Linked DNA regions of Homo sapiens: region 2 is linked to region 1. Evidence: fine-mapped expression QTL. Tissue or cell type: macrophages. Region 1 holds a variant in brackets; the other region holds the start of a gene. All regions are shown on one strand. Distances are between the middles of the regions.

The links. PIP is the estimated chance that this variant, and not a neighbour inherited with it, causes the effect.
Region 2: it holds the start of NSMCE1-DT, and the variant in region 1 is fine-mapped to the expression of NSMCE1-DT in macrophages (Nedelec 2016, PIP 0.95).

Annotation. Positions count from the first base shown.
Region 1 is chr16:27,243,193-27,251,205 of GRCh38, reverse strand. The region is part of intron 2 of NSMCE1 (NSE1 component of SMC5/6 complex); the gene reads left to right. Among named protein-coding and RNA genes, the nearest start is that of NSMCE1-DT, 21 kb to the left of the region's middle. The variant C/A (reference allele first, on the strand shown) is at 3,823.
Region 2 is chr16:27,263,737-27,270,493 of GRCh38, reverse strand. It overlaps NSMCE1-DT (NSMCE1 divergent transcript), which reads right to left and starts at 2,289. Exons shown (of 5, transcript NR_037184.1): 1 at 2,250-2,289. NSMCE1 (NSE1 component of SMC5/6 complex) reads left to right here and starts at 1,722. Exons shown (of 8, transcript NM_145080.4): 1 at 1,722-1,788. RefSeq lists a silencer at 1,749-1,828.

The DNA.
Region 1 (8,013 bases):
ATATATATATATATTTATATATATATATATATATATATATATATATTTTAAATAATTAAAATTAAGGCTGGGCGCGGTAGCTCACGCCTGTAATCCCAGCACTTTGGGAGGCTGAGGTGGGCAGATCACCTGAGGTCGGGAGTTCGAGACTAGCCTGACCAACATGGAGAAACCCCGTCTCTACTAAAAATACAAAATTAGCTGGGCACGGTGGTGCATGCCTGTAATCCCAGCTGCTCGGGAGGCCGAGGCAGGAGAATTGCTTGAATCCGGGAGGCAGAGGTTGCAGTGAGCTGGTATCGTGCATTGCACCCCAGCCTGGGCAACAAGAGCAAAACTCCATCTCAAAAAAAAAAAAAAAACAGTTAAAATTAAATAAATTTCATTTATTTTATTATTTTATTTTATTTTTGAGAGAGAGTCTCAAAAAAGCCTCCCAGGCTGGAGTGCAGTGGTGCCATCTCAGCTCGCTACAACCTCCGCCTCCTGGGTTTAAGCAGTTCTCCTGCCTCCGCCTCCCGAGTAGCTGGGATTACAGGCACGTGCCACCACGCCCGACGAATTTTTGTTATTTTTAGTAGAGGTGGGGTTTCACCGTGTTGGCCAGGCTGGTCTTGAACTCCTGGCCTCAAGTGATCTCCCTGGCTTGGCTTCCCAAAGTGCTGGGATTACAGGCATGAGCCACCGCGCCTGGCCCTCTACACAGAGTTTAAAAAAAAAAAAAAATCCAACAGCTATTCCTGATTAAAAAACAAAAACAAAAACAATACCCTCAGCAAAGTGAGAAAAGAAGGGAACTTCCTTAACCTGATAAAGGGGATCTCTGTAAAACCTACAGCTAACATCACTCTTAATGGTGAAAGACTGAATACTTTTCCCTAATCTCAGGAGAAAGACAAGAATGTCTGTTCTCACCACTTTTGTTCTAGCTAGTGTACTGAGGCGAGAAAAAGAAACAAAAGGTAGCTGGATTAGAAAGGACGACACAGTAAAACTGTCAGTTCACAGACAACATGATCATCTGTGTAGAAAATCTGATGGAATCTACAAAAAATCTTCTGGAACTAATAAGTGAGTTTAGTAAAGTTGTAGGATACAAAATCAATATCCAAATACCAATTGTTTCTCTATATGCTGGCAATGGATAATCAGAAATGGTAATGTAAAAATAGCACCATTTATAATAACATTAAAAATAAGAAATGCTTAGGAATAGATCTGGCAAAAATGTGTTAGACCCGTACACTGAAAACTACAAAACATTGTTGAGAGAAGTCAAAGGAGATTTAAATAAGTGGAAAGACATAGCATGTTCATGGGCTGGGAAATTCAGTATTGTTAAGGTATCAATTCTCCCCAAATTGATCTATAGATTCAAAGAAATCCCAGTTAGATCCCAGCAAGGCTTTTTATAAAAATTAACAAGCTGATTCTGAAATTCACATGGAAATGTAAAGGACCTAGAAGAGCCAAAACTATTTTGAAAAAGACAAACTTGAGGAACCCTGCCTGATTTCAAGACTTACTGTATGGCTGTCCTATCAAGACAGTGTGGTAGTCATGTCATGATGGACAAACAGATGAAGGGAAAAAAATAAGAGAGCTAGATAACAGACCCACACATAGGTGGACAGCTGATTTTTGACAGAAGTGCAAAGGTAATTTAGTGGAAATAGTCTTTTCCAAAATGAGTGCTGGAATAATTGGATATCCATAATCAAAAAATGAACTGCAAGCCATACTTTGCACCAAATACAAAAATTATCTCAAAATGAGTCATAGACCTAAATGTAAAACCTGAAACTATAAAACTTCCAGAAGAAAACATAGGAGAAAACCTCTGTGACCTATGATTAGTCCAAGATTTCTTGGCTCCAAAAGCATGCTCCATAAGAGAATGAATCGATAAATTGAACTTCACAATTAAAAATTTACATTAAAAAATACTCTTTAGAGACTGAAAAGACAAGCAAAATACTAAGAGAAAATATTTGCAAATAATGTATTTAATGAATGACTTGTATTCAGAATATATAGAGAATTCTCAAAGCTCAAAAATAAGAAAACATTCAACCCGGCTGGGCGTGGTGGCTCACACCTGTAATCCCAGCACTCTGGGAGGCTGAAGCCGGTGGATTGCTTGAGCTCAGGAGTTTGAGGCCAGCCTGGGCAACATGACAAAACTCCGTCTCTACAAAAAAATACAAAAATTAGTCAGGCATGGTGGCATGCACCTGTAGTTTCAGCTACTTGGGAGGCTGATGTGGGAGGGTTGCTTGAGCCTGGGAGGCAGAGGTTGGAGTGAGCTGAGATTGTGCCACTGCACTTCAGCTTGGGTGACAGAGGGAGATCCTGTCTCAAAAAAAGAAAAGGAAAAGGAAAAACATACAACCCAGTAAGAAGTGTGCAAAATATTTGAACACTGCAAATCGGTTGTACAGATGGCAGATGAGCACATGAAAAGATGCTCAACATCATTAGACATTTAAAAAATGCAGGCCAGGCATGGTGGCTCACACCTGTAATCCCAGCAGTTTGGGAGGCCGAGGTGGGTGGATCACGAGGTCAGGAGATTGAGATCATCCTGACCAACAGGGTGAAACCCTGTGTCTACTAAAAATACAAAAATTAGCCAGGCTTGGTGGCGGGTGCCTGTAGTCCCAGCTACTTGGGAGGCTGAGGCAGGAGAATTGCTTGAACCCGGGAGGCGGAGGTTGCAGTGAGCTGAGATCACGCCACTGCACTCCAGCCTGGGGAGAGAGCAACACTCTGTCTCAAAAAAAAAAAAAAAAAAAAAAAGCAAACTAAAACCGCAGTGAGCTACCACTGCATGTGTATTAAAATGGCTAAAATGAAGAAGACTCTGCAAGGCAAGTATTGGTGAGAACATGGAGGAACTGGAACTCTAATATACTACTGTTGGGAATGTAAAATGGGACAGCCATTTAGGAAAACAGTGTGGCAATTTCCTATGATTCAGCCATTCCTCTCTTAGGCATTTATTCAAGAGATATGAAGCTATATGCCCGCACAAAGGCTTGTGCAGAGATAGAGTATCTTTATTTGTAATGGCCCCAAATGTGAACACCTAGTTGTCCATTTGCAGTTGAACAGATGAACAGACTGTGATAAATCCATACTACTTAGCAATAAAAGTAAGTGAGCTCTTCCTACATGCTAGAATATGAATGAATCAGAATGATTTTGCTGAGTGGAAGAAGTGAGGTGAAAGAGTATAAAGCAATTTTGTTTTGTTTTGTTTTTTGTTTTTTTTTTTTTGAGACAGAGTCTTGCTCTGTCGCCCAGGCTGGATTGCAATGGCGCAATCTCCGCTCACTGCAACCTCCACCTCCCAGGTTCAAGCGATTCTCCTCCCTCAGCCTCCTGAGTAGCTGGGACTACAGGTGTGTGCCACCACGCCCGGCTAATTTTTTTGTATTTCTGGTAGAGATGGGGTTTCACTGTGTTAGCCAGGATGATATTGATCCCCTCACCTCGTGATCTGCCCACCTCGGCCTCCCAAAGTGCTGGGATTACAGGTGTGAGCCACTGTGCCCGGCCATATGAAGGCATTTATGTGAAATTCTAGACAATGCGTACCTGACTGTAATGACAGGATGGTTCAGTGGTTGCATGGGGATGGCATAGAGGAGGGATAGGATGGGTAGGTGAGAGGGATTACAAAGAGGCACAAGGAAACTTGGTGAGTGTATTAGTCCGTTCTCGCGCTGCTAATAAAGACATACCCAAAACTGGGTAATTTATAAAGGGAAGAAGTTTAATTGACTCACCGTTCAGCATGGCTGGGGAGGCCTCAGGAAA[C/A]TTACAGTCATGGTGGAAGGGGAAGCAAACACATCCTTCTTCACATGGTGGCAGGCAGGAAGGAGAAGTGCTGAGCAAAAGGGGAAAAGACCCTTATAAAACTGTCAGATCTCTTGAGAACTCACTCACTGTCACAAGAATAGCATGAGGGTAACTGCCCCCATGATTCAATTCCCTCCCACCAGGCCCCTCCCATGACATGTTTGGATTATGGGAACTACAATTCAAGATGAGATTTGGGTGGACACAGCCAAACCATATTGGGGGTGATGGAAATATGTCTTTGCAATCCAATATGTATTTTACACTTAGTTTAGACTGGCCCCATTTTAAGTGCTCAGTAGCCACATGTGCTATTTGTAGAATGTTCCTCAGCTTAGGTTTGTCTGGAGCTTCCTCCTAATTAGATCTAGGAGTTTTAACTTTGCAGATATAATATGGAAGCGGTGTTGTGTTCTCTCTGCATCCTACCAGGTCGGCTACGGTGTTGATGGGGTCAGCCAGGTTTCTCCAGTGTACAATTACTCTTTTTCTATGTGATTAATAAGTATATTGCAGGGAGGTACTTAGAGACAAGGTAAATATCTCATTCTTGGCCCGGTGCAGTAGCTGATGCCTGTAATCCCAGCAGTTTGGGAGGCTGCAGCAGGTGGATCACTCAAGCTCAGGAGTTTGAGACAAACCTGGGCAACATGGCGAAACACTGTATCTACATAAAATAAAAAAATTAGTCGGGCCTGGTGGCATGAGCCTGTAATCACAGGTACTCAGAGGCTGAGGTGGGAGGATCCCTTGAACCCGGGAGGCAGAGGTGGCAGTGAGCCAAGATCATGCCAGTGCACTCCAGCTGGGTGACAGAGCAAGACCCTGTTCCAAAAAATAATCCCACTCTTCATCCCATTTTTACCTATTAGTTTTAAAATACTTCCCTGGATTCATTCTTATTTTATGGTTGCCAGACTGCTGTGAGGTACAGTTCTATACTCTCCAGCACTAACATTTTAGAACTAATTACACTGTATTATCATGTTTAATGTTAATTTTTATGAGGTTTTAAATTATCTATTGTTTTAAGGACAAGTTAGGTAAAAATGTCTGAAGTTTTAGATTTAAAAATTTAGGTTTAGAAATACTTCAGTGAGCAGAGTAAATAATTTGATGTTTGGGCAAAAACCAGGTCGCTGAAATACATGTGTCAAAACTAGATGAGTGAGTCAAGTATCATGGTCACGTTGGGGTTTGATAAAGATTTTCTGTTTTTGTCAACTCTCTTATCTGCCTTCATCCCGGGTTTGTTTCCAGCGTGCTGATTGACATGCCTGTATCTGCTTCGTCGTCTCACGCTGGACTCCTGTACATCATCAGGCTACGTGCGTTGATGGTGAATCAGCGATGTTGACATTTTGGTTTAGTATTCCATCCTGTCTGTAGTCCTATTTGTAAGCACCTTCTCTTTCCAAGGAAGACTCAGTCATAATTAGAAGCTGGCTCCAAGTACATTTTCCTTCTGTTTTTAGTGATTTCATTTATAGATCTCCCCTTTGGCAATGATGAACAGTTAATCAGCATACCACTGTCAGAGCCGGTCTGCCTTTCAGTTAATCAAGGGAGATAAAGTCTGGGATCATAACTGAAAAGTGGCAAAAAATGAGTATGAAAAGTAACATCTAACGTGTGACTCGATGAATTTCTCAACATACAGAATTGACAGCCGGCAGTTATTAAGTGCTTAGACAGGAATCTTTGGGTTCAAGAAGCTCTGTAACCACAAGGAAATTGATGTTGCTTTTGTGTCTCTGGCTCTTGCTGGCCTAGATGTGTCCAAGTCCTGCCCGTTCTTCATGTCTGCAGCCTGGGAGTCCAGGCTGGACTGCTCCACCGCAGCCCTTTCAGGCCAGCATGGAGTTGCTGAGCCAGGATTTCTGTGCGCTTCACGCTCCCCTAAGCACACACATCATGTGTTTGGGAATGCATTTTGAACTGGATCCCAGACATGAGAGAGGTTATGTGCTGATGCGTGGAAGTACTGGGAATGGATTCAGTGGGATTACCACAGACCCCGCTGGCTGGAACAGGGAAGCCATTTTTCAAAGGCATGAATTCAAGTCCTGTTTCTTCCAGGGTCTGGGGAAAGTTCTTTTACTTTTCTGAGTCTCAGCTTTCTGTGTTATAAGGGACATCACATTCATTTCATGGAAGAGTCTTGAGGATTAAGCAAGGGAATGTATGTTCAGCGCCTGGCACAGAGTGCTTGTGGGCACACGTTCACTTCATGCTCACCACTGCCTCTTCCTTCCTTTTCTGCCCCTTAACTTGCCATCTAATCCCAATTGCTGGGGGTGAGTGGTGGGGGGTGACTATCAGAAGACCCATGGTGCTGGTATGATAGTGTGATAGGAATTATTTTATAGACCACAGGGCTGAATTCTCTTGGGGTTTTCCTAGAAAATTCACAAAGCATGGTCACCACTTGTACCACACATCTTCCTCGGTTCGTGGACGGATACGTCTTGAGTGTCAGCTGAATGTTGGGCTGCTGTGGTGAATAGGATGAGCAGATCCCAGCCTTCAGGGAGCTGGCATTCTGCTTAGAAAGAGAAAGACCGTAACTCGGAGGCAGACAGTGTGGTAGTTTGGGGTGCTAAGTGCTGGAAGGAAGCATTGAGTCCCTCGGTAGAGCGGGCCTGGGGTGTGGCTTTGGCCAGGGCCTCTGTTCAAACCTTTCTGTGGAGCTGCCATATGTGGCGATGCTCGGGTGATGAGGGGCAGCCCTGCAGAGATATGCGGGAGACGCTTTCCAAAGGGAAGGCAGCATGAGTGAAGGGGCTGAGATGGGGAGGAGCTTGGTGTGGGGGAGTGGGGGACAGAAAGGCAGGTGGCAACATAGGTCAGGGGATGGAGCCCCAGACATCTTCCAGGCTGAGTGCTGGGACCTGGCTCCACTCAGCTGCATGTGGAGGACAGACAGATGGAGAAGGCTAGAGGGGACACCGGGAGAATGTTGGAGGCTGTTGTCTGCTTCAGACTGTAGTGAGTGGGGAAAGGGAAGGGCGTGCGCCTGTCAGAGCGACTGCAGTCAGCCGCCTTCATACCAGCCACTTCTTAGCCCCTGCTTAGCCCAGAATGGGCACCAAATTGAGTCCTCCACGGATAAAGTGTGAACATAAACGGAGACCAGGCAGCAGAACAGGCAGCAGCTGCTTATTTAGAGCTTGCTCCAGCAAGAGAGGCAGCCTCCACTTGGGTTTAGCAGAGACTCCAGGAAGGCAGAGGAGTGGGGAGGCTTCAGGTGTGCCTGAGTGGAGGCTGCTGGCCAGGGCAAGGTGGAGACAGCTAACCAGAAGTGGGGCGTCCTATGTGATTGGTTAGAAGTACATATGTGGCTTTCTCTGGTTTGTTGTCTCTTAGAAACAGGGATAAAAATTAGGGAAGCTGGCAAGCATGGTGGTACATGCCTGTAGTCCCAGCTACTTGGGAGGCTGAGGCGGGAGGAACACTTGAGGCTAGGAGTTTGAGACCAGCCTGGGCAACATTGCGAGACCTCAGGGTCTGCAGAAGAAACAAAGTTAGCTGAGCGTAGTGGCTCGTGCTTGTAGTCCCAGCTACTGGGGAGACTGAGGTGGGGGGATCACTTGAGCCCAGGAGTTCAAGGCTATAGTGAGCTATGATTGCACCACTGCTCTCCAGCCTAGATGACAGAGCGAGACCCCATCTCTAAAATATAAAATAAAATCAATTAGGGTAGTATCAGTTACTGATCCTGCCTTGGTCCTTTTGGGCCATGATTGTGGGTTAGTTTTGGCTTCTGGACTGGTTGCTAGGGGACTGGCCTGGCTTCCTGCAGGTCTGGCTTAGAGGTGGTGGGCTGGCTTTCTGGGCAGGTTGATGTAGATTTTGGGTTGGAGTTCTGCTTTTATACGTGGTCTGGCCATTGGCTGCAGCCCATTGGCTGTTTGTATGTTCAATCTCTCAGAAGAATGAGTGTAACACGGTCCATTCCTTTGAGCTGCTCACAGTCCAGCCTGTGTGAGAAATAGTAACTGCTTAGCTGGTGGGTCAGGGAACAGAGTGACCTCATTAATCACTGTGTCTCATGACAGCGGGTTTCCTGCCCACATCGGAATTGGGAGACGGTGAACGGTCAGTGGTATATAACTTACAGGCATTGTTTGTTTGCACTATAGTGTTTGT
Region 2 (6,757 bases), 20 kb before region 1:
ATCCCCAGCACCTCCAGCCACCAAATTATCCTTGAAAACCCTGAATTTCCAGGGAGACTGATTTGAGTAATAATAAAACTGTGGTCTCCTGTTCAGCCAGCTCTGTGTGAATTAAACTTTCTCTATTGCAATTCCCCTGTCTTGATAAATTGGTTCTGTCTAGGAAGCAGGCAAGGAGAACCATTGGGTGCTTACAAAATGCGAGAATACTTGCATTTAACCTACACAAATCCTCCAGTATATTGAAAATCATCTTTAAATTACTTACAATACTTAATACAATGTAAATGCTATATAAGTAATTGCTATGCTGTATTGCTTTCGGAATCTGTATTATTTTTATTGTTGAACTGTTATTTTTTACTGTTTTCCCCCACAAATATTAACCACCCACAGTTGCTTCAATCCGTAGATGGGGAACCTGTAAACATGGACAGCTGACTGTACTTTGTCCTATGTCTCAGAGACACTGAGTTTAAGGCCCAGGATTCCATGTTGACCATCCAGCTCCAAAGCTGAAGCTTTTAATCACCACACACCACTGCTTTCCCACTTAGCAGATGAAACTGAAGCCCAGAGAGGTTAAGAGGTTGTCCAAGATCACAGGGGTGGTGAGTGACCAAGCCTGGATTTGATCTATCCTCACAGAGACAGATATTTGCAGGTACTGCTGTTCTATATTAGTTACCTGTTTCCCTTGCTAGGCTGCATCCCTAGCTCTCAGACCAGGGATAGAATTCAAACGTTTGGAAAATTAACGCCTTGAAGACTCAAAGCAGTCCATTCACTTCCACGAGTAATTTCACTTGCTTTCTCACAATCCCTAGGTAAGATAACAGTTAACATATAATCAGCACTCCCATGTGACACTTTTCAATGGCCATGCTAAGCACCTGATATAGGTGTTATTATCTCTTGTAAATCTCACCAACACTATTTTGCAAGAACTAATATCCTCATTTAATGGAAGAGGAAACTGAGGCTCAGTGACTTGCCCAAGCGCCTGCCAACTAGTAAGTGGCAGAGCCAGGATTCTAGATCAGGCTCTATGACCACAGAGTCCACATTTTTCTTTTCTTTTTTTTTGAGCTCTGTCACCCAGGCTCGAGTGCTGTGGTACGATCTGGCTCACTGCAACCTCTGCCTCTCGGGTTCAAGTGATTCTCCTGCCTCAGCCTCCCGGGTAGCTGGGATTACAGGCACACACCACCACGCCCGGCTACTTTTTGTATTTTTAGTAGGGACGGGGGTTTCACCATGTTGGCCAAGCTGGTCTCGAACTCCTGACCTCAAGTGATCGGCCCGCCTTGGTCTCCCAAAGTGCTGGGATTACTTACAGGCGTGAGCCACCGCGACCGGACCAGAGTCCACATTTTTGACGTCGAGGCCACACTCAGTTCCACAGATGGGGAAACTGAGGCCCGGGGCAGGGCACTACATTGTGCCAGCGGAATGGTGGCCATTGAGGGAAGCCCAGGCTGCACGCCAATTCTTCCTCCTTGGTCAGGGAAGTCACTGAGGTGCAGGAGGCGGAGGGCGACAAGTGGAAGCCCCTTCCCATTATTAAGGATCGAGAGCGGGCGTAATTTGGGATCTAACCCACGAGGCGGAACCACCAGGGCAATGGCGCAAACGGAGAACCGGAAGTGCGTCACTCAACGGACGGGCGAATAAGCCGCAGGCCACCAATGGGAACGCCGCGTTCGCGTTCGCCCCGCCTCAAAGGAAGAAGAGTCCACCTTGCGACCGTATCCGCTAGCGCGGCCTGGGATGCGCTTGGGCTCCCTGGTGGGTAACGTGGGGAGCTAGGGGTTGGAGGGGAAAGAAGAGGGACTTCAAGGAAGGCGAGGGGAGGACGGAAGGTGGGGTGGGCGAGACAGGCAGTGGGGTCCGGCCCCGGGGTCGGTCCCCGTGGGCTGTGGAACTCGGGGACTGGGGTCTTGGGGTTTCCCCCTTCTTGATGGGGAAACTGAGGCCCAGACAGGGGCCGCAGAAAACAGCGGACTGGGATGTCCTCCCGCAACACACACGCAGACATCTAAAAATCTTACTATTTAGTGAAAAATATTTTTAATCGTAATTACGATTTAACAGGTAAAGATACTTTTCATTGTAACAGGTGAAAAAGCAAAATATAAAATTCGATTCAAACTGTGATTACATCTATGGAAAATACAGCCTTTGCCGACCACCCTCTTTGTCCCGCCGCCCTCCGTGCTCCCCTCTGTTTTGTGTACGGAGTTTCTTACTTTGTACAAGTCCGCAGCCGCTTATGTTACAGCCCCGAGGCCAGATGCGTTTAAAATCGAGGAGTTCTCGGAGTTTGGAAAGGTAAAGTCCCTATGTTCTATGTTAGGTTTCACCCTCAGAGGGGGCTGGAGCAGCGGCTTGTAATCAAATACACGACCCTTTCCACAGCTAAAGTTATGAAGATACGCATATATTACATTGACCTGGTCGCGGTGGCCCACGGCTATAATTCCAGCACTTTGGGAAGCTGAGGGGGGCGGATCACCTGAGGTTCGGAGTTCGAAACCAGCCTGGCTAATATGGTGAAACCCTGTCTCTACTAAAAATACAAAAAATTAGCCGGGCGTGGTGGTGCGTGCCTGTAATCCCAGCTACTCGGGAGGCTGAGACGGAAGGCTGAGGCAGGAGAATCGCTTGAACCCGGGAGGCGGAGGTTGCAGTGAATCAAGATCGTGCCACTTCACTCCAGCTTGGGCAACAAGAGCGAAACTCCGTCTCAAAAAAAAAAATGCATATATTTACACTGTTGGGATAAATAACCATAAATAGCCTCACCTTAAGTCAGGTCAAGTTTTCCAACTTAAACAAGTTTTGGTATTCAGACTTTTTTTTTTTTTTCCCCTGCATCCGATCATCCACTAGTATTCATACCTTTTTAGATTTGAGGGTTGCAGATGAGGGACCTGGATTGTAGTTGTTCTGTTCACTCACTTTTCTCACTCTCGCTGGATAGAGAGTGTCCTTGAAAACAGGAACTGTGCTGTTGTATGGTCACGTCTATCTCTGCCACCAACTCTTGTGTGTCACCTTGTGCCCTCTTAGTCTCAGTTTCCTCATCTGTAAGATGGGGTCAGTGACCCTTTGCTCATAAGGTTGTTCTGGTTTGGGTTAAATGAGGTCGGGCATGTGAAGCACTAGAATTGTGTTAGCACCCGCACGAATGGTATGACTGAGATTTACTTATTCCACAAACATTTCTATTTTAAAATTATTAAATTTAAATAAATTGATTTAATTAATGCATTTAATTAATTTAATAATAAATTTAAACGTATAGATGTATTTCTTAAAATGTGGGTGATAGGAATTTTAAAGATTTATATAATGCTTCAAAAGCCTTCGAAAAGGTTTTTTTAATTGGTTTATCTGTATATATGAACTCTTGAAACTTATGGCTAAAACACTAGGATTTATCTGCAAGGTTGCAGAGAGATAATTCTGCCTTAAATTGGCTAAAACAAAAACAAAACCAGCCAACCTATATTATACATGGGATTAAAACCAATTTTTCTCCCATTTTTTTTCTCCTTTTTTCTTTTGCTGCCCACATTATGCCTTATTTTATGAGCCCCAGTTTTCTGGGCTTAGTTAAAAAAAATTCAGTTCTAAACATTGAATTTAGGGAGTTTTTGTTCTTGAATAAAAAGGCATATACTTAGAAAAAAAATCTGTTTATCCGGGAAAATATATTGAAATCATGCTGCTGAGCCTCTATTTTCTTTGATGTTTTGGTTCTGTATTATTTTATCATAACTTTTTAGCATTTAAAAATTTACTGATGTACATTTAAAGCCAATAAACTGTTTTAATTAATTTTTTTAAAAAAAGTAATTTTTTTTTTCTTTTTGTGACAGAGTCTCGCCCTGTCGCCCAGGCTAGAGTGCAGTGACGCGATCTTGGCTCACTGCAACCTCCACCTCCTGGGTTCAAGCGATTCTCCTGCCTTAGCCTTCTGAGTAGCTGGGATTACAGGCGTGCACCACCACGCCTGGCTGATTTTTGTATAAAATAAAATTATTTAAGTAGGTAATACATGTCTATGCTAATCCCACCATTCTCCCTACAGTCTCTTCTCATAGAGACAAGGGACATAATATGCATAAACAAGCTTATGGTTGTCTTTCTTCCACTCCTACTTTTCCCACTCCTTTTCCACCAAATTATAGCATTCAATCCTATCCTGTTCTCATTCTCATTTACATTTATTTTGGCTGTTATTTAACATATTCACATTATTTTGTTGTTGTTGTTGTTGTTGAGAGTGGATCTTGCTATGTTGCCCAGGCTGGTCTTAAACTCCTGGCCTCAAGCAGTCCTCCCGCCTTGACCTCCCAAAGTATTGAGATTACAGGTGTGAATCACCATGCCCAGCCCATCACATTTAAAAACATTGTATGTAACATACCTATACAATTGTGTGGAAGTGTAAGTTTGAAGAACAAAAATAAAATGAACACTCATGTACCTGCCACCAAGTTAAGAAATAGACATTTTCAGATTGCCAGACCCTCCACTGAATCCTTTCTTCCCTCCTCAAAGATAACCACCGCCCTGAATATTGTGTTACTTGTTGCCTTGTTTTGCTTTGTAGTTTTTACCATGTATGTGTGTATTTCTAATGAATGAATGTATGCTTTTGCTGAGTTTTCGATTTTATGTAATAGGATCCTAAAATATATTTTGTGTGACTTGCTTGTTGCACTTAACATTATCTTTCTGAGAAGTATGCGTGTTGATGTGAGGAGCTCTACTTTGTCTTCATTGCTGATTTGAATTCTATGGGATGATTATATTGTTTTAATGTAGTTCTTCAGTTGGTAGGCATTTATACTGTTGCCAGACTTTTGTTATTACAAGGTGCTTCTGTAAAAACATATCTCCTAGGGCAAATGTGGAAGTTTCTGTAAGGTATATACCTAATAGTAGATTTCGGGGGATATGCAAATTTGCTAGTAATATCAACTGTTATCTGAAATGGTTACAATAATTTATACTCAGCCTGGAGTGGTGGCTCACACCTGTAATCCCAGCACTTTGGGAGGCTGAGGTGGGTGGATCGCTTGAGTCCAGGAGTATGAGACCAGCTGGGGCAACAGGTGAGACCCCATCTCTACAAAAAATACAGAAATTAGCCGGGCATAGTGGTGTGTGCCTGTAGTCATAGCTGCTAGGGGGTTCTGAGGTCAGAGGATCGATTGAGCCCACAAGGTCAAGGCTGCAGTGAGCTATGACTGTGTCACTTCATTCCAGCCTGGGCAACAGAGTGAGACCCTGTCTCAAAAAAAAAAAAAAAAAAAAAAAAGGAAAAGAATTTATACTCTCCCAGCAGCAGATGAAAGTTTCAGCCTCAGCCATTCTTTTAAAATTTTTGCCTGTCTGGTGGTGGCTAAGACATTCCTTCACTGTGGTTTTCATAATCATTTGTCTGATAACATTGAGATTGAGCATCTTTTTTCTGTATTTATTCATCATTTATGCATCCTCTTTTTGTAAAATTTCTGTTGCCCATTTCTCTTTTACAGTTGTGTTTCCCATGCTGATTTGTAGGAATTCCTTATATAGTCTGAATATGAATCTTTTGTATTTTGTAGCTTATGTTTGTTTTAAATGCCCTCCAGTTTGTATCCCCTAACCCCCACCTTTCTGGTATTTTTGGTGAATAGAGGCCCTTAATTTTAACAAAAGTCAAGTTTATCAGTATATTCCTTTATGACCTGTACTTTTTATATCTCTTAAAGAAATCCTTCCCTACCCTTAGGTGATAAATATATTCTCTATATTGCCTAAAAGTCTTACAGTATTTTTCCTTATTATGACCTTATCCCTTCAGAATTGATGTTTGTATATAGTATGAGGTAAGAATCAAATTTTATTCATTTTTTTACATATGGATAACAAGTTTTCCTGGCACCTTTTATTGGAAAGTTTGCTTTCATCCGCCATCAAGTATCCATATATGTATACCTTTCCGTTTCTGAGTTCTCTGTTCTGTTCCATTGATTGGTCTTATTTGTCTATCTCTGTACCATTACCACACTGTACTCGTTACTCTAGCTTTATAAGAAGTGCTTTTTTTGTTTTGGTTTGTTTTTAGACAGGATCTTACTCTGTCATCCTGGCTGGAATGCAGTGGTGCAATCATGACTCACTGTAGCCTCGACATCCCGAGCTGAAGCAGTCCTCCCACCTCAGTATCATGAGTACCTGGGACTACAGGTGCATACCATCATGCCCAGCGATTTTTTTTTTAATTTTTGTTTTTAGTAGAGACAAGGTTTCACCACATTGCCCAGGCTGGTGTTGAACTCTTGGGCTCAAGCAATCTGCCCACGTCAGCCTCCCAAAGTGCTGGGATTACAGGCATGAGCCATCGCGCCCAGCAAATATGAGAAGTCTTTATAGCTGGTAGGACAAGTCCTTCTGCCTTTATTTTCTCCCAGGAATGTCTTTGCTGTTTTGCCTTTGTGTTTTCTATGTAAATTTTTAGAATCATCTTGTCAAATCACACACACACATACACAAAGCCTCTTGGGATGCTGACTGTAATAGCATTGATTCAATTGCATTGGGTCAATTTGGTTTTTAAAGTGATTGCTGCCAACATTTCATTTTTCAGTATGATGTTTGCTGCAGGTTTTTTGTAGACGTCACTTAGTAGATAAAAGATGTTTTCTTCGATTCCAAATTTGTTTTTGGTGTAGGTACATGTTGAATTTTATCAATTGTA